Linked DNA regions of Homo sapiens: all the other regions are linked to region 3. The links come from fine-mapping of genetic effects on gene expression. A gene starts in region 3. Each other region holds a variant in brackets. All regions are shown on one strand. Distances are between the middles of the regions.

What was found.
Region 1: its variant is fine-mapped to the expression of SLC1A3 in whole blood (TOPMed, PIP above 0.99).
Region 2: its variant is fine-mapped to the expression of SLC1A3 in whole blood (TOPMed, PIP 0.99).

What each region holds. Positions count from the first base shown.
Region 1 is chr5:36,681,598-36,689,864 of GRCh38, reverse strand. It overlaps SLC1A3 (solute carrier family 1 member 3), which reads right to left. Exons shown (of 10, transcript NM_004172.5): 9 at 5,867-6,001; 10 at 1,531-3,800. The coding sequence ends at 3,596. All of the region lies in intron 1 of SLC1A3-AS1 (SLC1A3 antisense RNA 1), which reads left to right. Among named protein-coding and RNA genes, the nearest start is that of SLC1A3-AS1, 39 kb to the left of the region's middle. RefSeq lists an enhancer at 226-455. The variant A/C (reference allele first, on the strand shown) is at 4,169.
Region 2 is chr5:36,627,692-36,635,691 of GRCh38, reverse strand. SLC1A3 (solute carrier family 1 member 3) reads right to left here. Exons shown (of 10, transcript NM_004172.5): 3 at 6,105-6,242. Among named protein-coding and RNA genes, the nearest start is that of SLC1A3, 25 kb to the right of the region's middle. The variant A/G (reference allele first, on the strand shown) is at 4,303.
Region 3 is chr5:36,601,862-36,610,137 of GRCh38, reverse strand. SLC1A3 (solute carrier family 1 member 3) reads right to left here and starts at 3,532. Exons shown (of 10, transcript NM_004172.5): 1 at 3,403-3,532; 2 at 1,534-1,809. The coding sequence starts at 1,714. RefSeq lists an enhancer at 3,326-3,425.

The DNA.
Region 1 (8,267 bases), 80 kb before region 3:
ACTTATAAGAAACATTTTAAAAAATGTCAGCCAGAGGCTGGGTGCAGCGGCTCACTCCTGTAATCCCAGCACTTTGGGAGGCTGAGGCAGAAGGATGGCTTGAGGCCAGGAGTTTGAGACCAGCCTGAGCAACATAGCGAGATCCTGTCTCTACAAAAAATAAAAATAAAAATTAGCCTGGGCGTGGTGGTGTGAGCCTATGGTCCTAGATACTCGGGAGGCTGAGGATCGCTTGAGCCCAGGAGTTCGAGGCTGCAGTGAGCCATAATCACAGAGTGAGACCCTGTATCTTAAAAAAAAAAAAAAAAGCTGTGAACCTGCATATTTTTCATAGTTCCATTTGTGAGCACATGTGTGACTACCACATGTTGGGATCTAAGGCCTGCTTCTCCACCCTCTTTGTCATACTCTGGCTGAGAGGCACTTCCCTTAACCATAAGGGGCTTTCCACAGACCTCCCACAGGCAGATGACCTGCTTCTTATGTCTGCATTGTGGAGGTGGCCAAAACCCAGCGTGGGCTGCAGAAGGGAAGAAAATGGTCCCGGCAGAAGGGAGCACTTCCTAGCAGTGGATTGATTTTATGCGGCACTTCCCAGAACGTTTCACAGGGGGCAAATATTGATCTGCTCAGGGTGGCCAGGCTTGGTTCCCTCAGTTTGTGAGCAGCCTTTCTTTTCCCAAACTGGTCATGTAAATACCACATATGCCTTCACAAAAGTTAGGGTGTATGGTTCAAACATAGCGATTTGTAAATTTTTTTTTTTTTTTAGTCGTAAGATCTGTTAGAGAAACCGATTGAAATTAAGAATTTTACCCCCAGAAAAAGGCAAATGCACAAAACTTTCCCCACAACTTCAAGGGCGATGAACCTATTGAACTCTCATGTGGATGACCTAGGGGTCCATGGATCCAACTTAAGAGCCTTTCCTCTAGGTGGCTGCCACCTGCTGGTAGAGAGGGTCAGATTATAGGCTCCAGACACTACTTCAATCTGGAGATTTCATGATATTGCCTGCGAATTCTTTACTAAAAAGCATGATGAAAAGTAGTCATCCGTAAGCTGTTCTTAATGAATAGAGCACCAGCACAATGGCTGTTTCTGGAAATCCCTTGAGATCTTAGTTAGCTCTTTTCACAAATGGTGGTAATAATCACAGAGATAAATCTACCTAATTTGGAGGTCAGACAGGAAGTTACTTTTTCGGAAGGGCCCATGGTGGTATCACACTTTTCTAATCCCGACATGGAAATGATTCAATTCATCTGAGAAATTTGAATCTGACATGGACAAGGAAGTATGGCCTGCTACAGCAAAGTGCTCCGCTCACCTCCTCCTGTTTCCAGCTCCAGTTCTTGGAGTTGAGCAGGAGAGCATGTCCTTACTTATTTTCTTGTGGCTGGCTCTGCCAAGATTTTACCTTGCTGCATGGGATCCTTCCAGAGACTGCCCTGAGCTTATTGTAATATTTCCATGAATGGAAAATGTATTTTTCTTTGAGGAGAAGAATAACAACAACGTGCAAAGATGTTAATGTAAAACTATTTTTTTCTTTATTGAAAATACATCTACAAAGTAATGCTTCCCAGTCCACACTGAGTGCATGTGTATGCAGAGCCTGTGATGGCTTGGCGAGAGGATGGGCTCCCCACAGGACCTTTCCATAAGAAATGGTTAGTATATTAAAAAACACATATTGTGTAACAGAATTAAGTTGATATGATTAAGTCTTTGCTCTACTAGTGTCTTAAGAGGACAGCCACGTACTTTAACATTTGTAGTGTATTTCCGAAATAGAGCCTCGACATTAAATGGTTACTGCACCACAGCCTAATGTTAACTTTTATGCACAGAATGCTTGGGGTCTATATAAAAATATCTCTAATTGTATATCAGAGGATCTATGTCTAGATTTTTCAGTTTGTTAGCATAATTAAGTCCATTCTTCACCATTTTCAGCCAGAAACTCAAACACAGCTGCTACTGCCTGACAGCTCCCACTCAGCGTCTTTGACTGGATATTCCTTAGGGGGTAAAAATTAATCTCTAAACCTGGGAGCTGCCTTGCCTGAAACTAATGCCCCTGCTGTTTTTTTCTCATAACCTCATTGACAGTGTCTTCATACTGATTCATCTTCTACCATTTCTCTTATGGACACAAACAAAACAAAAGCAAACCCCACTCCAGCTGAAAGTTTTGAATGATTTGATAAGTGGGATTCCAAAACAAATAAATATTTTGTTTCCCTCATTCTAAGGACTTTTGATTAAAGAAAAACACTTTCAAATAAGAAATACCCACTCAACTCATGGACTTCTATTAGAGAGCTCATTCATTTGACTTCTTTCAAATATATAAGTCGTCTTATGTTTTGGTAAGCAGACTTCACGGGGGGAATGATTTTGGACTCGAGAAAAAGTGTTTCAGGTGAAAAAAAAAGCCAGAAAAATGAACCTCTTCTTTTTTATTCTTCCTTAAAGAAGACCTGTACTCTTGGTGTTTTCAAATCCTTTGTTTGTAATGTTGCCTGTGCTCAACTCTTTCCTAGCTCTTTAGTGTTCCACAGTGTGACCACAAGCACCCTTGCTAGCTGCTAGTCTTCTCATCTGTTTTCGAAGTCTATCATCAGTTGAGGAGTGGCAGGAGACATTCTTCCCAGAGTAGGAAAGAAGGGAATACTTCCCCCATTGGGATGAACTGGGCAAAGAGTTTGATGAATAATCCCACTCCTGGAATGGCCTCCTGCCTGGCGACTTGCATAACCTGCACTTTGCTCACAGGACCTGGTGACCACCACACACAGCCATCCTGTCCTTAGTTAGAAATGTTCACTCCCATTGAAGTGTCTTTTCTGAAGGCCTCGTGCTCCATGGATGGTACAGGGTGTTCTGAGGGGAAACAGAGGGCAGGTGCTTTCATGACATCACAGGATGTCTGGGCTGGAAGAGACCATGAAGACTTCTAGGGAAGTCCCTCATTTTATAGATGAGGACACTGAGGCCTAGAGGTGAGATGGGACTTGCTCAAGGCCACATGGAAACTTTGCCTTCTGTCTGTCCTCACAGCTGTGCTAGATGTATATGTGCACCTAGCTACTAATGAAATAGGTATACCAGTCAGAAGAGAAAGGGATAAAATCTTACTGTCCAACTGATAACCGGTTGTAATTCAAGTTGTTAACATTTTGAAACTAAAACTGAATTGTATTCTGAAAGATTTTTAAATTTCAAAAGTTGATTTTAAAATGTTTTTAGCCTACTATTTGTCTCTTTAACTTATATAAAAAAATCACATTTATAGGATTGTGTGCCACATAAACTTGTAAGATCTGATCAACACTATTTGTGATCTTGGTACCTTATTCGGTAAGACTAACATGAAATGATTTAAAAATTTCAATTGTGGGATGAAAATTGTACACTTTGGCCACCCAAAATCCTCCCTTGTGTTTTGGAGGACTATTTTCCAGTCTTATCAGAAGGGAGGAAAGGGAAGATGACGGGCTTGCTGGAGCGAATGAGCTGTAATGAGATGGAAAGATTTTATAATGGTTTTTAACACCTGGTGCTCAAGAAAGTGTTTCTTTATGTTAGTCTACATCTTGGTTTCACTGTCGATGGGTTTCTCAGTTTCATTGTCCTGTGCAATCAGTTGATATGGTTTCTTCATTTCATTCTCTTCAATCACTGAGTTACCCATTTCAACATCTCTGTTCTTCAGTTCATGTCGTGACAAGTGCTCCACAATCCCAGCTCCCAGGGAGTCTCCCAGTACGTTGGTGGTGGTCCGGAGGCGATCCCTGCAGGCAGGGTGGGGAGGAGGGAAAAACGAGGCTCCCGTGAGCATCACAAGTTTTCAACTTACGTTAGGAACTGGCCAGCGAAGCACCTCTTAACATTCAGTTCGCCGTATCTACCAACTGCAAGATTACGTAATAGACACATAATATTCATAATAGTAGCTATTAAAGGTTATAAGGCCATATAGATGATGAATGTTCAGTTATTAGTTTGACTGAAGTGAGAGTCCCAACAGTGGGGAACGAGCCTTCTCTTTAAGCCATTCTCATAATAATACTAAGATGTCATTTGTCCCTCTCAGTCTCATTTTCTCATGAATGTATAGTGGAGTTTTGCAAAGACTACATGATGTGTGATGTCACAACTC[A/C]CTGAAGCAGTTGTGAAACTGCAGAAACAGGAAACTCCAACTGTCTTGTATTAAGCCAGACATTAAGAAAACTTGCAAAACATAAAATAGTACCATTCTTTTCACTAAATATTGGGGTCGAGGCCGGGCACCGTGGCTCACACCTGTAATCTCAGCACTTTGGGAGGCCAAGGCAGGTGGTTCACCTGAGGTCAGGAGTTCGAGACCAGCCTGGCCAACATGGTGAAACCCGTCTCTACTAAAAATACAAAAATTAGCCAGGCGTGGTGGCGGGCGCCTCTAATCCCAGCTACTCAGGAGGCTGAGGCAGGAGAATCACTTGAACCCAGGAGGCGGAGGTTGCAGTGAGCCAAGACTGTGCCATTGCACTCTAGCCTGGGCAACAGGAATGGAACTCCATCTCAAAACAAGTAAATAAATAAAATAAATTTTGGGGTCGAAATGGTTGTTTTTTGCAAAAAAATGCTATTTATGTTAGCATATATAACCTTTTTGTTTAAAGATGATAATAAATTCATTCCATTATTTTATTTTATGAATTATTATCACCTTTAAATAAAACATGTAATAAATTAACAAGTGGAAATTTATAAGTGTGTCTAATATGATAAATATGAATAGATACAACCCATATAGATCAAATGCTGTTTCAGTTCTCAATAATTTTGAAGTGTAAAGATCAAAGACTGTGGAGAACTGTAGCTTTATATGAGAGTGCTCATGTTAACTGATGCTGACTGTGGGCCAGACAGTAGGCTGCATGCTTTCTAGGCATCATTGCACTGAATCTTGCAGTACCCCTAGGAGGTAGAGGACACGGGCACCCTCATTTTACAGAGGTAGAAACTAGGGTGGTTGGGTAATCTGCCCGGTCTCACACAAGGTCAGGACACAAACACAGGTCCAAGTAACTGGGGAGTGAATCCTCTCGCCCAGTCTGGGGTTTCACGCACACTGTCAAGCTCTTTTCATGTTGCAGTTCTAGTGAACATATGTTGTGTTAACTCCAACACGTACTCTGTTCTAGGCTTTGCTTTGGGCATCCTGGGGAAAGATTTTCAAAAGTGGAAGGAAATTTTTAAGAGAAAAGGCACAGAGAATGCCAGCTGGAAGAGCGAGGGAAGGGGGCGAAGGGATGGGCCTGTAGAGGTTAGAGTTTGAGAATGTGGAGGGCACATTTCTTGTAACTTTCCCTAGATCCGAAACTCAATTCCACTTAATGACACTAGCTCTCTTCCCAGTGTCGGCATAGCTCAGCCTCACCCTATTGGGCTAGGATGGGAAAATCATTCCCACTGGAATGGGAAGCACACAGAGGCAGGGCCTAAGCTGGCATGTGGGGCCTGCAGCTTTGTTCCAGCTGCTGTGGTGTCATGTTGTGCAACTCAGAAACAGCCTTGCTGATTTATGTTGCCTTTGCAGACAGCGGGTTTCCCAATTCCTGAATGGCTTTATGGAGTGAGATGTGTGGCAGCCAGATGTGCCCCTTAGGCTGACAGGGGAGTGAGTGCACATGGCATCTGGGGCTCGGTCTCCAGATAAGGACCAGGGGTCAGACAATAAGGACAATTTAACTATGGGCCGAGAGGCCCCTCTCCTCAGAGTTCTTTCTGTAGATGTGCCAGGCTGCCTGGTGCCCTAGAGTGACAGAGGGGGACCCTGTGACAGTGAGCTGGAATGCAGGCCAAGCATACTCACAGGAACCAGTCCACCGCGATGATGAGCGTGATGTCGTCAGTGGGCAGGCCGACAGATGTCAGCACAATGACCATAGTGACCAGGCCCGCCTGAGGAATTCCAGCTGCCCCAATACTGGCAGCTGTGGCTGTGATGCTGTTAACAGAAGTACCAGAACAGAAAACACTTTTACAAAGCTCCCCACGTAGAGCATATACGCTGCAAAATACGCACGGTGCCGATGCCTGACTTGCCATGTAACACAAGAGGACGCGCTTCAGAAAAAACGTAAATGAGATTTTTTTTTTTTTTGAAACAGTATCTCACTCTGTTGCCCAGGCTGGAGTGCAGTGGTGCAAACTAGGCTCACTGAAACCTCTTCCTCCTGGGTTCAAGTGATTCTCGTGCCTCAGTCCCCTGAGTAGCTGGGAATACAGCTTCATGCCCCCACACTCGACTAATATTCGTGTTTTTAGTAGAGCAGGATTTCACCATGTTAGCCAGGTTAGTCTCGAACTCTTGACCTCAAGTGATCCACCCACCTTGGCCTCCCAAAGTGCTGGGATTACCGGCATGAGCCATCATGCCTGGCCCGTAAATGAGATTAAAAAAAAAAAAATTGAACTAATCATCATGCTAACTAATATTTATCATGTGCTTACTATGTGTCTTCTGATATACTAAGCATGGTTTATCTAATTTGGTCCTCGTACAATGACCCTTGTGAAGTTGGACCTATTATTCTAGTCGTTTTTAAATAAACTGGCAGCTATACACTTTTAAACATCCCTGAAAGTATTTTGTAAGGCAAAGTCTAAAATGCTGTAGAGTTACAATAATAATTTGTTTCTAGTAATTCCCCTATCCAAGTGGAGGGTTGTAAAGTTACTGAACATTCATGATTAATGTTGTCAAAAGAATCAAATTTGGTTTCTTAGTTTGGTTTGCTTAGTTAATTCAAAAGCAAAATGATTTATGAACAAAGTTTTATAGTATTAGAAATACTTTTTATGAAGGCAGTGTAGACCTGGCTTGCAAAGCAAATGTTTTATAAATAGTAAAGTATTATCTGGTTATAAGTGGTATTAATAAAGTATTAAGTCTGTCACAGAAAGTATTCATGGTCCCCATACTGGTCCCCTTCTAAGATACTGGGACTTTTAGCTGGTATATGGCTCCCCAGAATGAAGACTACACTTCCCAACCTCCCTTGAAGCTTAGATTAAGTTCTGGCCAGTCAGACATGCATGGAGGTACTGAGCAACTTGCAGGGTATACCATCTCCCCACTTCCGACTGACTAAAATCTGGGGGTGGTGAGTCATCCCGGACCACCTGGATAATGATAATACCCTAGAGACTTAGTCTCTTATACCACAGAGCACCTATCAATCAGCCTTGAAGGCTTTGTGGAGCAGAGCTGTGCTGCATGAAAGAGAAATATATTTCTATCTTGCTTGTCACTGTTACTGTTATTTTTAACTCTGTCACCTTTTTTTTTTAATAACCCAGAGCCTTTCAATCAATATGCCAAAGTATAGGTTACAGGTGAGCTGAGATAATGATCTCCTAAGTCCCATTATAACTACTTTGGGCCTGAGGTTCCCAGAACCCCCAGGTCAGTCATTGACCTCTGGCCCTGATCAGCCTTTTCCTTTTTACTCCGATGCATCCTACTACAACTATTATCATTTTCTACTAACACAAAACATATACACAGAGTCTAACAACTTATTTCTAAATAAACATAACAACAAATGTGTGGTGACTGATTAGATGAAAAGAAACTAAGACACCAAATGTAGGCCATAAATGTGGATTTGAACTTGGTCTGGAAGTAAAATCTGTAAAAGACATGTTTTGGGGGACAACTGTGGAAATTTGAATATAGATTGGATATTCTGGAAGTATGTTTAAGATTCTTACTATTGTGGTTATGTAGAAAAATATCCTTATTCTTAGGAGATGCATGCTGAATTTTGTACAGGTGAAATGTCATAATGGCAGAGAAAGAGAAAGAAGAAGCAAAAATGGCAAAACGTTTGCAATTTTTCCATCTGGTAGAGGATGGTTGGTATAATATTGTTTCAACTTCCCTATATGTAGGGCATTTCACAACAAAATGTTGAGTGATAAAAATCCCCCCAAATCTGACTTAGTTTGCTCTCCAAAATGTACTTTTAATAACAATTTAAAAAAAACCCCACAACAATGAAGAGCAGAGGCTGATCTGGATAGTGAGGCTTAAAGTGTCCCATTGCCATTAGACTCATGGGTCCCTTGTGCAAAATAACTTTTAATAAGCAAAAAGGAGGGATTATATTTGCACATGCACATGCGTATGCCTGGCGTATCTCTGGAAGGATGCAGAAGAAACTTGCAGGTAACACTGGTTGCCTCTGCAGAAGGAAACTAAGAGATGG
Region 2 (8,000 bases), 26 kb before region 3:
TACACATTGGGGCTGAGTTTCTCAGAAAAGACACAGCAGTTGTATAACCAATGAAAATATTTACAATTATGCAGCTGTGATAAGGTAATCGAATTCCATGCCGCAGGGCAGAAACCTATCCCTTCCAGTAATGAGGTAGGAATTCTCGCTGGCTCCCATGTTGTTACCGGATTAATTTTATGGTTTCTTCAATTTACCTTAATAGGAAAGTGGTTGCTTCAGGGATCACAGACAAATGAGACTTGTGAAATCTGGAGCCTTAGTTCCGTGTCCCTGACTTGAAGCTCTGTCTTCTTGCTCTAGAATTTTCATTTATACAATGGGAACCGCCAGAAGACAGCTCTTGCTGCTACTCTTACCGCCAACAGCTACCATTAATTGAGCACACACTATGTGCCAGGCATAAATCCTCACAACAACCTTGTGACACAGGTATCTTATCACTTACATTTTATAGAGAATGAAAGGGAAGCCTAAAGAAATTCCTCCCTGCGTTAGATACTGTTTTTTTTTTTTTTCAATACAACGTACGGGTAGGTGTTGAGGGGGGCAGGTGGTGAAATCTACAGCTCCTTTTCTTGTCCATAAATGCTCAGAGTATTCAAACAGGCCTCAGACATACACCAGAGCCATGGCAATGCATAGTTTAAGATATTAAATTTCTCTTAAGTGATTTCGACTCATTTTGCAAGCCCTTGACAAACCCTTCAGATGCGAAGATTTAAGAATTGTCTAGCCCTTTTGTGTTACACGAAATGACAAAACTTTAGTTCACTCTTACTGTAACTGTCATCTCTCTGAAGCCAAAGGACCGTACTTTGAGGTACAACATTTATTATTTTTAATTAAGAAAGCCCTTTGCTGGTGATTCTAGCTCACTGCCTTCAACAGTCATTGAGTCCCACATTTGACTGAAGTTGTTGGTCTATAGATTTGAAAAGAAGCTGCCCAAATAATATGTGACACATCATAGAGCTTGTCACATGGAGAGGAGAGGACCAGAGAGGCAGGTGTTGTGTTTTGTTTTTCTGGTTTTTAAATTTATTTGTTTTATTTTGGATAAAAAAAAAAGTATTGTTAGAGTTTTCTAAGGACAAATGGGTTCCAAAGAGCTCTTGTCTTTAGATATGTTCAGGAAGAAGCTGGACAGTCATTTGGAAGGGACACTGCAGGAATGTCTGGACCACCAGATCAGTGCTTTCCAAAGTGGGATAGGTGTTCTGGTGGTGTGGAAATCCTACCTTAATTAATATTAAATCACAGTGAGAAAGTCATTCTTTTCAATTCTCTTTTGATTCTTTGGATTACAGGAAAGGCAAAGTCTTATTTTGGTACTAATGTGTGTTTAACACCTTGTTAACATTTGCTAATCCCCTCTATTTATTTATTTATTTATTTATTTATATTTCTTTTTTTGAGACAGAGCCTCACTCCGTTACCCAGGCTGGACTACAGTGGCGCGATCTTGGCTCACTGTAACCTCAGCCTCCTGGGTTCAAGTGATTCTCCTGCCTCAGACTCCCGAGTAGCTGGGATTACAGGCACACGCCACCACTCCTGGCTAATTTTTGTATTTTTAGTAGAGATGGGGTTTCACCATGTTGGCCAGGCTGGTCTCGAACATGTGACCTCAAGTGATCTGCCAGCTTTAGTCTCCCAAAGTGCTGGGATTACAGGCATGAGCCACGACGCCCAGCCATTTAAAAATACTACAAGAGCGGGGGAGTCGGGTCTCAGGCTCCCAGAGCCTTTGTTAGGCAATTGCATCAATTTACAATTTCATAACATTGTTACTTATCTCCTTCACATGACAAGTAATAGGAGGTTTCCATTTTGGGTAATGATTGTAGGCTGTGGAAGAAGAGTATGTTGGTTTAAAGAAAATATTAAGTAAATGAGACTGAGATGGTACCTATGATGGAAAATTCTGGGCTAGTTGACTTTAGGATGGAGATGCTGTGTCATGAAAATCAGATTTGAAATCATGTTCTTAAAAATCAGCTTGTCACTTTCTTGTTGGGAGTACAGAGAACGAGTCTTATCTCCTTTTAGTTGGAACTGGAATATTATGTGAATTAAGGGATGCAGGGAAGCTCTCTCCTCAGCACCCAACATACATCTTCTTGGGGACTGTATCTTTGTGTTCATGTATCCCCAGTGTCTGACATAGTAGAAGCGCAATAAACAGCTGTTAAAGAATGAATGAATGTTAAATGAGAAATTTCATCTACTTGATAATCCTGCCTCGAGGGTGCCCTACCATACGTCCCAGACACTGTTGCTTTTACTCGTGTTGACACTCCTCTCTCACCTCTTTTACTTACATCATGCCCAACACCACAGAGATTGCATGTCAAAAGTTGTGCTCCCCACTTCCAGAAAACTGGGGTGACACCAAAGATTTCTTCTGAGGTAAGTGATTGAGGGGGAATGCACACTTAGAATGAGAAAAGAAGAAAGCACTAGTTTCTGAAAAGATTCAGAAGTGAGGAGGTAATAGTTATGTCTACCCTGCACAACCAGATGTGACATTTAATTATTATCCAGTGAATTTAATCAGGCTAAGTCAGCCAAACCAACTCATATTTCTGGCATGAAATTTCTAGTTTGGCTGCCCATCCTGACCAAATCGATAGAAACTGGCACCAAACCCCTATTTTATTGTGTGGTGTGTTGGCACAGACATAGTCTTCTTGTCCAAAAAATAGGTACTTGAGTACAAATCTAGCCATTAGGCTTCCTCCCAGCTTCTTTCTGGCAGCCTCTGGAATGCTAATACACACCAGGGATGTTTGGAAAGATTGGAGTTTCAAATTCAGGGAAAAGGGAACATGGCTTACAAGGGCTATAGAGCCACAACTCATAAACACGGATGTTTCAAGTAAAAAATATAACTTAGATGTCTCAGAATTTAAATGTGGCTTTAGTACAATTAAACTTATAGCATGTTTTCTAGAATCTTCCACAATAAAAAGCTTAGTCCAAGAAACACAATAATAGTTTTATGCATTTCAGTTTCTGTCTACAGACCCTGGGACAACTGAACTTAGGAGAAACAAGTCTATAAAGTATTTCCCCACTGGGAAATATTTCCTATGGGAGCATGACCTCTGAGTTCTTACTCCAGTGTTCCTTCTGGTGCAGAAAAGACCAGAATGGCTACTACACAATGCAGTTATACCCAGAAGATGGAGAGAAGAGGCTTTCCAATAGCAATTTGTTTAGTCAGCAGTAAACATGATGTTCAGTAGTGAATTCCACATTATCAGTTAAGCTTTGGCACAGGACTGCCAATGATTGGATTCTGACATTCAAACCTGAGTTCAAATATTGGTAGTCTGAGGGTTGGAATGGGCCTGCCATTGGAATTACATTGGAATGGGTGTACTGCGTTTGCTTTGCACTGGTTTGTTTCGTGAATTGTATCAAAGAATCTGCAGGTTCTTAAAAAATTTGAGATTTCTGGATACTCTTGAAAAACAGGAAGATCTGGCCCTTGTCTCAATAGTCTCTTTGCCTGCCTTTTGCCATATTATTCTGTAGTTGGGTCCCTCTCCGTTTATCATCATACTTGTCCCTCTTAGTTCTCTTGTTGAAGAGAAATATTTCTCTGTATCCATGACTCTATCAAAATAGGAAAACAAAAAATAGCCTGAAAGGGCAGCTTCATGTACATGCATCACCCACGTGGCCACTGGAGGCATTTGAGGTTGCCTTTCCACTCTAAAGCAATGGAGCCTGCCTTTGTTTCTTCCCTAGGCAACACATTCTCCAGTAACATTTCCCAGTATACACAGGGATCCTCCAGGGGTCTGTGTAATTTGTAGAAGTTCCTCCCTTCCCATTATAGCTGGGTCATACCCTCATTTGGGTTAGAATTATTGTATTCAAAACCATAAAGGACATTCTTACTGAATCCATCATTCATTCCATTTGATCATAAATATCTAAATTACTGTGTAGTTTGGAAATTACTCACTTCAGACTAACACCTTAAAAAGATCTTTGGCGAACTAAATTCTGCCCCTCAGACTCCTTGCCTTAGCACAGTCCTGGACAAGAGCTAAAACTCTCTTAATGGTCCAATTTGGCAACACTCCCAACTTGCAATTAGGTTACAGTTTTAAAAGTTCATTTTATATTAGTTGTTTGCAGCTTATAATTCTTTTCTCTTTAACAATATTATAAATGTTAACAATTTTTCCAAGTTTTGACCAAAAATTTCTCTTTAGCCATGCAAAGGGATTGCATCATAGTATTTTTTTTTCTGAAAAATTACACAACCAAAGTTCTTATTTCTTC[A/G]ATAAAGTTGTTTGTTATTAGGTATTAAGAAAAATCAGGAAATTCCACTTCAAGGTGGTGATCAACTGGGACTGCTGCTAAGGGGAAGTAACACTTCTCTAATTGTATCATATAAGGGCTTTTCTCTTTTAAAGAGTAACACATTGGATTTTCAGCACAGTTAAGAGAAAGCAGATACCTCTAAACATTGGTTCCACCCTTGAAGAGAAAGTATAAAAGATCCAGAACCCCTCGGTTTGTGTATAGGAAAACTGCAGGCACTTAATCCAGATGCCCTGCCAGCAGGGATGGTGAGGAGAGACTCTGCTCTACCACAGAAAATGTCAGATGTGGGTTCTGTCTTACAAGTGCTTTCTGTGAATAATTTGTTTCCCAGAAAAATATCAGCATATGGATAATAAAATAAGCATGTGCCCTCATGTCAGCATGAATATAGCTTTTGTGGTAAGAACTGTAGCTGCTGTGATTACCCCTGGTCAGCAATGGACCATCCCAGCTTCACAAACAAGTACATCAAATCAACTCCAGGACTGTTTTATGGGCAATTCATTCTCCAGTGAAAGCATATGTACATGCAATCACTTGTTTAAGGCCCTGGACAAGTGGAAACCAGCAGAGATCTGCAAGGCATTGAGGGAAAATCTGACATAGTTCCTGTCTAAGTAATAGCCAGCCCTCCAAGGCATGTAATAGAATGTTCCTCCATGACTTTTGAGTTGTACTATGAAGTTCTCATTACACAGAGATCTTGAAGGATAGTATAAATATCCTTGAGAACTCCCTGGGATGGGAAGGATTCTCAGTGCCAGCTCACATAGAGGTAGAGTGGTATATGCCCAACAGGGGAACAGTGAGCCAAGGGTGGAAAAGAGAATAGGGTCAGTAATACCTGAGTTCTGAGCTTTACCTACAAACCCAGAAATCATCCTGCTCGGGCAGTGTCTATGGAAATTCCTTCTCCAAGTCAGAGATGTGCTGTGGGGAAAGAGAAGAGTGGGCAGGAAGGAATGTACAGTAACATTTTTCTGCAACTTCTTGGCTCCATCTGATTCACCAATCACATAGACAAATGACTCTTTCACCTTTTCCCATGCAGGAATAAATGGTTATCTCATTGTCATAGAACATAGAATCCTATCCTGCAAAGCTTCCACTTGTTAAAAATCCAAGTGTCCACTGATAAAATATTCAGATGGGAAAATCTCCCGCCCCCTCCCCCTTCTCCCACTAGCATAAAAGGTAACGGGGGTGGGAGGCAACTGGAGAAGGAAATGAAATCATGCGGGTACACCAGGAAAAGATAAGTGTTGGTGGCAGCAGAGTTGGTGAGTGTTGTGGGCATTACCTCTTGATGAGGCTTCCAAGAAGGCTCCCGCTCAAGTCCTGGTGGTTCTGAGAACAAGCATTCTTGCATCAATAGCTAATAGGCTGTCCAACCAGATGTTATCTGGGTGGGATAAGAGGGTGAGAAAACAGACCTGTTGTACGCTGTTGTCAACTACATCACTGTGGTCAGAGAAGGCTGATGGTGTGGTGTTTAGCAGGGCACCTCGTTCACTGTGAGGCGAACCAGATTACGTGGCTGTTTAAATTCGTTTCCTCTTGTGATTGGTAAAATACGAGAGTTATAATCATTCATGCATTACTAAAGCCTCCTTTCCATCATTTTGAAGGGACTTTTTTTTTTTTTCTAGAACAGAGCATGCATCCAGCAGAAACCTAAAGCACTGGCTTTTCTAAGCAATCTTTTGCAATAAACACACTTAAAAAAAACCAAACAAACCAACAACTGCTTATGGTACCTGTGACAAGACTGGAGATGATAAGTGGTAAGACCAGCATCTGTAACATCCTCATCAGAAGTTCCCCAGGAAAGGAGAAGTACTTGACTTCCCGGTAGCTCATTCTGTATGGTCGGAGGGTAAATCCAAGGATTGTACCTGAAGGAAAAAAAAAAAAAAAGAAAAAGAAAAATTGAGTCTTTTTTGAAACAGAAGGAACAGCCCTAGCAAAATGAGTAAGTATTTGGCTGGTGGTTGTATTTATTTAAGCAGCAAATATCTGTGCTGCTTTGGGAGCAAGAGATGTATCTATCTTTGCAGTCATTATCTGTGAGGGTCTGGCTGAATCCGTGGTTCAATAGAACTTATAGAAAAAAACTCTTTCTAGTTTCAACAAGTAAAAAAATCCCTTTGTCTAACTTGAATGCAGTGGAACTCATTCTGACCTGGCTCAATACAGAGTTACAAAGATTGGGGCATAATTAGGAAACAAATAAGCATTCACGAACAGGTGATATAGAAAAAAAAGGCTTTATTTTAATTAAGTTCCTTTATAACAACAGATGTTAGAATTGCTAACATAACCACTTTTAAAGGATAGTGTGATTTTATTTTTTTTTCCAGTTAGAAAAACCCCTCATGTTCACATTGTTAATCCATTTTCATCATCTCCCTGTCTTCACACCACATTTTCTCCCTCTGTCTACATGGTCTTGACATTGCCTTGGTAACTGTATTGTACAGACTTGTTAGTTGCTGGCAAGAGAAGACTCCAAAATGAGCAGAGATTTTCTCCCCAAAATTTTCCCTGAAAACGTGGGAGAATATAGGGGAAAGAGAACGCAATTTTCCCCTTAATTTTCCCTCTACAACTGAAACTTTAAAATCTTTTTAGAATGAGAAATTTGCATTTAAATCAAATTATGCATGATAACTACTGAAATGTTCAGAAATTAATAAAGGTATTGGTGTCAATAAAAGTGTAAATTTACTCCCTCTCCCCTTTACCTAATTTACTTTCCTTGCCAAAGAAAATTTACTTATGCCAGTGTTGTAAATGTTTTTAAAGTTTTTGCCTTGCTATTATTACTGAAACATGTGATTCCATTTTTTAAAAAAGTCCATGTAAGTTATAGAGAAAGCAGCATGCCCAGCACTGAGTTAACTAGGAGCTAAAGGCTGGGGGTGGTGGGTTGGTGGGGAGAAGCGGGAATGATACCGGGTTGGCACAAGCTTTTCTAGAGGAGGCAAGCAGTCTTTTACGGAAACTGAACTGTCTTAACTTCTTATGAAATGGGACACAAAGTTCATTTGAATTGTCACTGCAACTCCAATTTCAATTCTTGGGTCTTAGCAACCATAAAGTATCCATTCTTTGTCTCTAAACTGTGATATTCTAATAAGAATCTTAATCTACGTGGCTAAAAAAAATCCAGCTGACCCAGCTCTCAGGGCCTTCAGGTAAATATTTATTGCTTTTTTCCAATGTAACAGTAATATGGTCAAGGAGAAAAGTTGAATTGGAAAACGCAGAAAGGTGGGGCAAAATCCTGCCCATATTGTTTGTATCACTGAAATAAATAGTAAATAACTAATGCTTACTGAGCTCTTGCTATATGCTGGGTGTTGCCTAGGTTAGCAGCAAATTTAATCCTTGCAACAACCCCAGGAGGAGGGTACTATTTTACCACTAACTTACTGAGGGAGAAACCTAATCACGATGAACTTAAAACTTGCTTAAAGTCAAATATACTCAAGTGGCAGAGCTAGGATTTAAAAACAGACAATTTGGACTCAGATCCCAGGTTCTTAACCCCTTTATGTGTTTCCTCTTCTCCTGTAGAGCAAAGGCAACCACTTTGTGTGTCTCTTTTGCAGAATGTTCCAATACATAGTTAAACACATGGAAATCATACA
Region 3 (8,276 bases):
TCTAGAGTTTACTAGTGTTGTCACTTTGGGCAAATTGCTTGATCTCTCCACAGTCAGTTTCATCTACAAAATGAGGAAGATCATAGTAATCATACCTTCTCACTCGCTTCATAGGCTTGTTTGAGGATTAAGTGAGCTAATATAAACAAAACTCCTACAGAGTAGCTGGAATAGTACTATATAAATGTTTGCAATTATTATTATGCAGCTATTGCTTGGCTTGGCAATGACTTTGATTCAGAGTGACAAATGAGGCAAGCAGACTGTATTTTGCATTGACTTCCAGGACAATGATGTGGGACTGAAATATTTCACCCAGGAATATATTCAAGCCTGGAAACCTACTGTGGAAAGCCATTACTTCTCTGGGTCAGTTAGGACATGTTCTCTTTGAATATCTCTAAATTAATTGAACCATCATTAATCACCAGTGATTACTAATGGAAGACAATGATGTTAAAATGGGATGTATCTAAAATCTTGTGACAAACTCTCCTGCTATACTTCATTTGTCTACAATTTAAGAATTCAATTTTCTTGAAAAAAGTTATATTTACACACTACAGAATTTTCTTAATCTTTATTAAATCATTACCTCTTTAAAGTTGATGGAAATCTTGGCAAACTCCAAAGTAGAGATTAAAACGGTACTGAATGCCTCTTTTTTGGTGGCAAATTGGTAGGTTAAGTTGGAATATTTTTACAACCTGGCATTGGCGTATATGTTTGTCAATCTAAGGATTTCTGTATTGGTTTGGTCAAAAATTCCAAATAAGTAGGTTTTTTCAGCTATATTTTAAAGTAGGATCAATGCCACCCATAAGTAATAAACTATAACTTTTAAGATCAATAAACAAAACAAAACAATAATATTTTATTAGTACAGATTGCTGTCAACCCTGCTAAATTAGTAAGAGATGGAAATGATTCAAAAAAAGGTATAGCTGGTTATGGCAGGCTCTGCAAAGCAATGAATGAAAGAGATCTGTGTTAACATTTTCCCCAATCTACCTTTCCCAGTTGCTGGGTGAGAGAGTGCAAACACATAAAATATTCGGTCTCTGTGCCTAAGCGTTGATACTCAGCTTCAAGTCAGCACCAGTTAGAATATAATTACTATTTGGAACCAACATGTCATTTTAGGTGTACTAATTGTATAAATTAGTTTTAAGTGCAACTGACATTGTATATAATTACATTTTGGCCAAATCTAGCATGCTTGCTTTGTCATGCCTAATGATTAAATGATCACTTCCTTATCCTTACATGAAATGGGAAAATATTTTATTTATTTTTCTTCCTCACACAATTGATTTGCATAATGCCTAATGATGCCTAATGATGTGTTTACTATATATTGCTCCAAACAAGCCAAAACAGTCATTTTTATGGAGAAAAATCATCAAGTTCAGAGGAAAGCCTAGGCTACCATTTTGATACCTACAACTAGTTCATCTGATAATATTCCCCGGGCAGCCAGATGCCCCAGAGAAACAAGATACAGGTTTTTTTGTTTTTAATCAAATGACTCACCCACAATGACAGCGGTGACTGTGAGCAGCACAAAAGCATTCCGAAACAGGTAACTTTTAACATCCTCCTTTGTAATGTTCTGCACTTTCTTCTTGGCCAAAAGTGTGCGTTTACGGACTCCCTGCTGGAATCTCTCCATCCTGCCCCCCATCTTGGGCTCTTCTCCATTGCTTTTAGTCATATTTTACTTTTCTAGGAGGGTCTCTTCTTTGCACTTCAGTGTCTGGGAATCACCCACAGAAAGCCAAACCTCCTCTTTGGTATTAGAAAACACAACTAGAATGGGAGAAAAAGAGACATGAGTTATAGCCTCCAGGGGTGAGAAATCAGTGCTGCTCCACACCAGGCAAGCTCTTGGCAAATTGCATAATCTCAGCAGGAATCAAGGACTGGAGAGCCACAATACCAGACCTCAAGGTTGCAGTGTGCATATTTTAGTGGACCACGTGTGAGAAATGTGCATAAATTCGGAATATATTCTATTTTCTTTTTAAAAATCCGTCCTTCCCCTTCCAATGAGGCTATAAAAGGGTTCTTCAGAGCTAGATCTGACTGAGAACCCCTATTCCCACCCTCCCCCGCAGAACCCAGCTGATGCCTTGCACAACGTACACAATCAGTAAATGTCCAATTGAACTGAATGCACAGAAAGTATTCAATCATTACTTGACAAATTATGCTGTATACATGGTTGAAAGCATAACCAGGTCAATAAAAATAATTAAGATACTGATAGGTGGGAGTTGTCTCTGTTACATGCAGTAAAGTAACCAGCTATTTTCTTCATTAAGAAAAAAATATAATAATATCTACTAGTAAATATGGTCATAAAAAGAACACAAGTGCCCACAGTACATGGGAAATACATGTGACTATTTTACAGGGTAATTTTTTCATTTTTTTTCCATGAAATAAGCAAAGTGCTCTGGGCACATCTATAAATCATCTGAAATCACAATTCAGCTTCGTTTATCACAAGTAGAAGTATGAAGTAGTGTTTTTCTTTGTGACACACATGCTGGAATCTTCCGAGGAAACTATCGCTGACTTTTTAGCGTTTTAAAATTTAGGATTTCTAGAACAGATGAGATGAAACCAATTTTCATTCCAAACATTACAGCTTGTGGTTTCTGGTTTCTTTAAAGCACTCACGCTATTTAACTACATTTCAGTAAATCTCTTTCCTGGTGGAAATCAGCTGTTCTGAAAAATCAAGGGATTCCTCCTGGTGCTTTACAGGAGCTCTAATCCATAGCCCTTCCCATAATCAATCCGAGTGAAAACCAGCCGTACCATGGATGTGTGTCGCTGCCAACGCAAGCAGCCAGCGTGTGCGCCTGTGGGGGAGGTAACTGGAAACCAAAGGACTCCTCGCAAATGACTTCTCGCAATCCCAGTGCAGGAAAAAAAAAGACTTGTCTTAACAGTTTGCCTTTTAAATAAAATTGCAAGTTGGGGTCAGTGATACTAAGACTTCTAATTTGTTTAAGACTTCACACTGGATTAAATGCTTAGGGAGAAGTGAAGACCGGGAAATAGGAGAGACCAGATTTTTTTTTTTTTTAAACTAATAGCTCTGATTCCTCTTACCAGTCACTTTTAAGCAGATCCGCTCAACCTTGATCCTTTTCTAGATCTCGCGCCACAATCTGCCCCCAATCCACCCCGAATGACTCAACTCCGAATTAACAGCGGACCCGGCATAAACAGACACCACACTCTCACGACGTGAGATGACTAACAAGGACTTTATCTACCAAAATGGCTAGCCTTGATTCAGGCTACTCCTCTGCTTGGAAGGCAAAATACATCGGCAGAGAAGTGAAAGGAGAAATTAAACCCAGCAGGAACACAGAATGTGACACTTACCTTTTCTGATTTTGTAAGGGGTGGAAGATATCAAGCAGTAACGAGGTGAATTCCCCAGCAGGTACAACGGAGCAACAATCCGCAGCGCGCGTAAGCAGGCAGGCTAGCCCTGACAGTGTGCATGTGCTCTGAAACTGCAAGTTACTATCAGGGCAACTTAAGAAAAGGGGAGGAGTCTGTGCCCGGGAAAGGAGGAGTGGGGAATGGAAACCGCACAGGGAGGAGGGGGAAACCCCGAGGTTTCTGGAATATTGATTAATCTTGGCACACCAGAAGCAGGCTTGCTGGCTTTGTTTTGCTCCTTAGACCACTTTCACGCTTTGTCAGTTCACTGTCATTAGAAATGCAAAACCGGGACTAGGAAGAATTGAAAAATAAAGCGCACACAATCGGAAAGCTGAAAGTCTTGATTAGAACGTTTCAAAGACTTTTCTAAGGCTAAATTTAATTACCTCACATTATTGCATGTTTCCTCCCTTTCAGGGAAGACGAGGGTGTGCTCTTTAGCCTGGTTGTACAACTGTTACGAGAAAGTTCCTTTTTCGAATCGGGGAATTAACTGACGTTTCTTGGGAAGACACTGAATGCAGACAAGTATGTAGAAAAAAAATAATGCTTACTACGATTCTCTAAATTTGTCTAAAGTTAGGGACATGCCTCTATTTCAGCAGTTGAAACTTCAAAACTTCATTTTAACAAACCTAATTTAGCTCACACTGCCTGTGTTGCAAAGACGGAAAAGGTAGCAAATGTAAAGAGACTGGAATTTTTGCCAAACTAGAAAATGAAAAGCATTTTAAGACCAAGAGTGCAAAGTACACTTGAGATTTGGTGATTCAAAAGATAGGTTGCTGTTCAGATGTCTCCATTTTAAAGGATGCTAAATGTTCTCCCTACCACACACAACTTTTTTAGAGCTAAAAAATTCTCATTGCCTTGAGAAGGTAACTTGAGCTTCTAGTCCACTTTTCTTAAAAGAAAAATAAATTGTGAAAATAGATATTAGAAAATAAAAAAAAATTTTTTTGAGGTGACTTATTCCCAAAACTTAAATCTTCTTTAGAAGGAAGAAAATGGTTCATTAGAAACAAAAATTTATACCAGAATCACAGCCTGAGGTTTGGATTCTTGTTCACTGAATTTAATATTCCCCATGCAAAATATGCTCAATTCTTGGTCTATTATTCAACAAGAAAGTATGTCTTTTTTCCCCTCAATACAAATCTCTGGAGATCATAAAGAAATATCTCCTTTCACCCTCAACTGTATGTCCTTTTAAACAGCTACTGGTTGGAAAGCAATGGTGAATCATGTCAATGCTTTAAAATTACAAATCAGCAGCAATTATAACAGCTTTCTAACATGCTATCATTTTAAGAACTTACTGAAAGTACATGCTTTTGACATTCCCAGCCCTCAGTGACCCTTCCCTTCCTCTGATCTCCTAGGTCACTGAGCATCTATACTACATTGTTTAGCACTTAATTATACCATGTTTTGTACTGCATCCTTCTTTTTAAGCTCATGTTAAGTTTTGGTTTCTCAACTAAATTATAAGTTCTTTGAGGGCAAGAACTTGTCTTATACCTAATACAGAGTCAATATTAAGTAACTCTTTTTAAGTGGGTGGAATAATATTAGGATGTGAAACAAAACGCTTTTCAATCTTTTGTGTTAAAACACAATTACTAGTTTTTACATTGGTGCCTCTGGTTTAGGTGCATGGAGCCATTTCTCAATGCCATGACTACTTTTAAAAGCATTTATTTACTATACCAGGTCCTATCTGAGCCATGAGTTTAGGATTAATTTGCACACCCCCCCCCCCCACCGCTTTTTTTTTTTGGTGGAAATGACTTTGACTTGTATTGCAAGGGAACTCGAAAGAGAAATCTGATTTTAAATGGGGTTTCAAGCCCAGTGGCATTTCCATTTTTTGTTTTTATTTTTGTTAATAGGCAAGAAAAAGGGCTGGAAAACCACACTTTGGTTAGCATAGAGATGGGAAGACCCTGGTGCCCTTTCTTTTTCACTTTTTTTTTCCTCTCTAATCCCTAAAGCTTGGTTAAAAACCATTTCATTATTTCAGTTTGTGTAGACATTATGGGAGTCTGGTATTCTGTTGAGAAGGGAAGTAATTCACCACTGAAAGTTTTGTTGGCTGTAATAAAACCTAATGAGAAAATGAGATGCAAAGAGTCTCAGTTCAGAGTTCATCCAATTTTAGTCTGGAGGGAAACATTGGGAATTACTTCTTTAAGCACCACTTTCTCTTTCTGGAAAGCTATAGCAAAAGTCATGCCTGGGGGCCTCCTGGGTTTCCTCAACGCGTATTTCTACCTTTTCCCCTCTACTTTATAGTTAAGTCCCTTGAGCTTTAAAACATCTTTTTTTTTCCTTCTAGAAACACTAAATAAATGAAAGATCAAGAAATTATGAACAAGTCTCTGTATGCTGTATTTCATTTAAAGCTACTCAGGGTGGGAGACACAGAAGCTGGGGGATCATATTAATGTTAGTATTATCAAATGAAAAAAACACAAACACCAGCAGCAAATGCTGTTCCTGCTGAAAAAATCTGTCAAGATCTTTCTGTGAACATTGTGTGATGAAGTATGTTATCAGTAAATTCTTTCTTTGGGAAAAAATGTCAGTATAACAAGAAATAACCAAATCCAACCTGTCCTTAAAGGGAGCATTTATTGGTTTGAAGAACAAGAGATTACGGTAATAAGCACGTGCTGATCTTAGCATGGTACAGGCCAGTCAAACTTCACCATTCAAAATTAGGAAATTTTGGTTAATTGGATTTTTTTTTGAGCAACAAAATGGATTAGAAAACCTTTTAATCTTTTTTCAATATTTTCCAAGTTGATTTTTAATTTAATGATGGTTTTAAAATCATTCCTTGTTTAAATAGCTTGCATTTTAGGATCATCATGAATGTCAATTCTCCTCCTAGAATTTGGAAATTGTAGAATGCTAAGACAATGAACAGGACCTGACTTAACCCCAGAGTGTAACAGTGGATGTGTTAGAGGCAGTAGGTGTAGAAGAACTTGTGGTAGTTGTCTTCCATTTTGTTTTGATTTTTTTTTCTTCTTAAATATGAATGTAAAAAGCAGAACAACAAAAAAACCTGTGGTGAAGTCTGGTTAGTTGAATTTTTAAATAACTAGGTTTTATTTTAAAGTTATAGTCATATGAAACCTAAAAACATCCAACTACAGAGAGGTGAACTAAAATTAACTTTATCACATTCATTTATTCTTTCAACAAACATTGAGCAACCACTGTGTTCCAAATACCAGTTTCTTTCCTCAAGGAGTCCATAAACGCATCGTAATTATTAAGCAGTGGGCCAGGACAGGGCCCAACAGAAGGTTATGAGATCGCTGTGTGCTGAGGCCTATTTACCAGTTAGTATGTCAAAAAGACTGGTAGCAACTTAAGAGAAGGGGCTGTGCCTGGATCCACATTGTGTACACTGTTTCTAGCAGGTGCCTGCCCATAGCAGCCATCGTGTGGCATGGCAGGGAGCCAGTAGTGGTTCCTGCTGGAGAACAGGCCAGTAGGGGCCGAATTTACAACTTGAACTCCACTCCTAGTCAATGGGGAGCCAGCCACAGGATTTAAGCAGGGAAGTAATTTTCGTTTTAGGTAAAATGCAAAGCCTTGAAGTGACTAAGACTTGGGTTAGGAAGTCAAGGGGCAGGAGGAGCATTTACAAACTAGGTGAGTTCACATTCACACTGAAAAATACTGACCATTTGAGAATATCAAGGCCCTTGAAGGGGTCGGCTGACACTGAGCCAAGGCTGCCTCCTGTAGGTGGAGTGTGCACTCTCCAGCCCACTTGTCCTGCTCACTTCACTCAAGTTAGTTATCAGCATGTGGCTCTAGCAAGTTCTTCTGTTTTGACCTCTGATGGGGTTTCAGAAGAGGACTGAGCAAGGGCAGAAGCCTAGGGAACACCAACACAAAGGTGAAGACCAGCAAGAGGAACCCCCCCAAATAGATTCCCACGTGGCAAGAAATTACACCAACTGTTATTTTTCTCACAAGTGATCCAACAGGTGGACATAATGATGCCTTAAAAAACAACATGTTTTCTCCATTCTAAAGCTAAAGAGGGTCTGCTTTTTAATGAAGGCTTCACACATGTTATTGTTATCAATTATTATTTATATTGAAAAGTGACATTTTCCCCAGTTGCTCAACATGAGTCAAGACTTTGTAGAACCAAGAATATCCGTTTAGCTGGAAAAGATTATGTAGGTTGATTGGAATTGAAGCCTTCAGCAGACATGTTTACAGGGCTTTATAGTTTTTTAAGTACTTCTACACACATTATCTAATTTAATCTTCGTGATAATACTTTGAGGTCTATTCTACTCTATTATTACTGGTCCTGTAGACCCAGATGTTGGAGATCAGTAGGGATTGAGTAATATGCTGGGGATCATAGTCAGCGCTAAGACAAGAGTTCTTCATGTTGATTTCTCATCTTTTCCCAAAAGAAGCCCCCAGGAGTTTTTTTAAAGACAGATAGAAAAGAAAGGAAAGAACATTAAAAGGAAGGCCTACAATCTGTTATTTCTTCTGGGGAGTCAACTCTAATCTCCTCCCACTCCCCAAATCCAACGGGCTTGGTTGCCTTTCCTATGTGCTCCCAAGGCCCCCTGGGTTTAAATCTCCAGAGTCATTACCACTTTGTGCTGCAATTCTCCCTGTCTAGACTGCAGGGTCTTTGAGGGCAGGGCCTGTATGGATAACTACTGCATACTTAGGAACCAGAACGGAAGGTGCTCAGAAAAGAGTTGCTGCACCAATAAACAGATGCAACACAGTCACAAACACAAGAGGGTTCATCA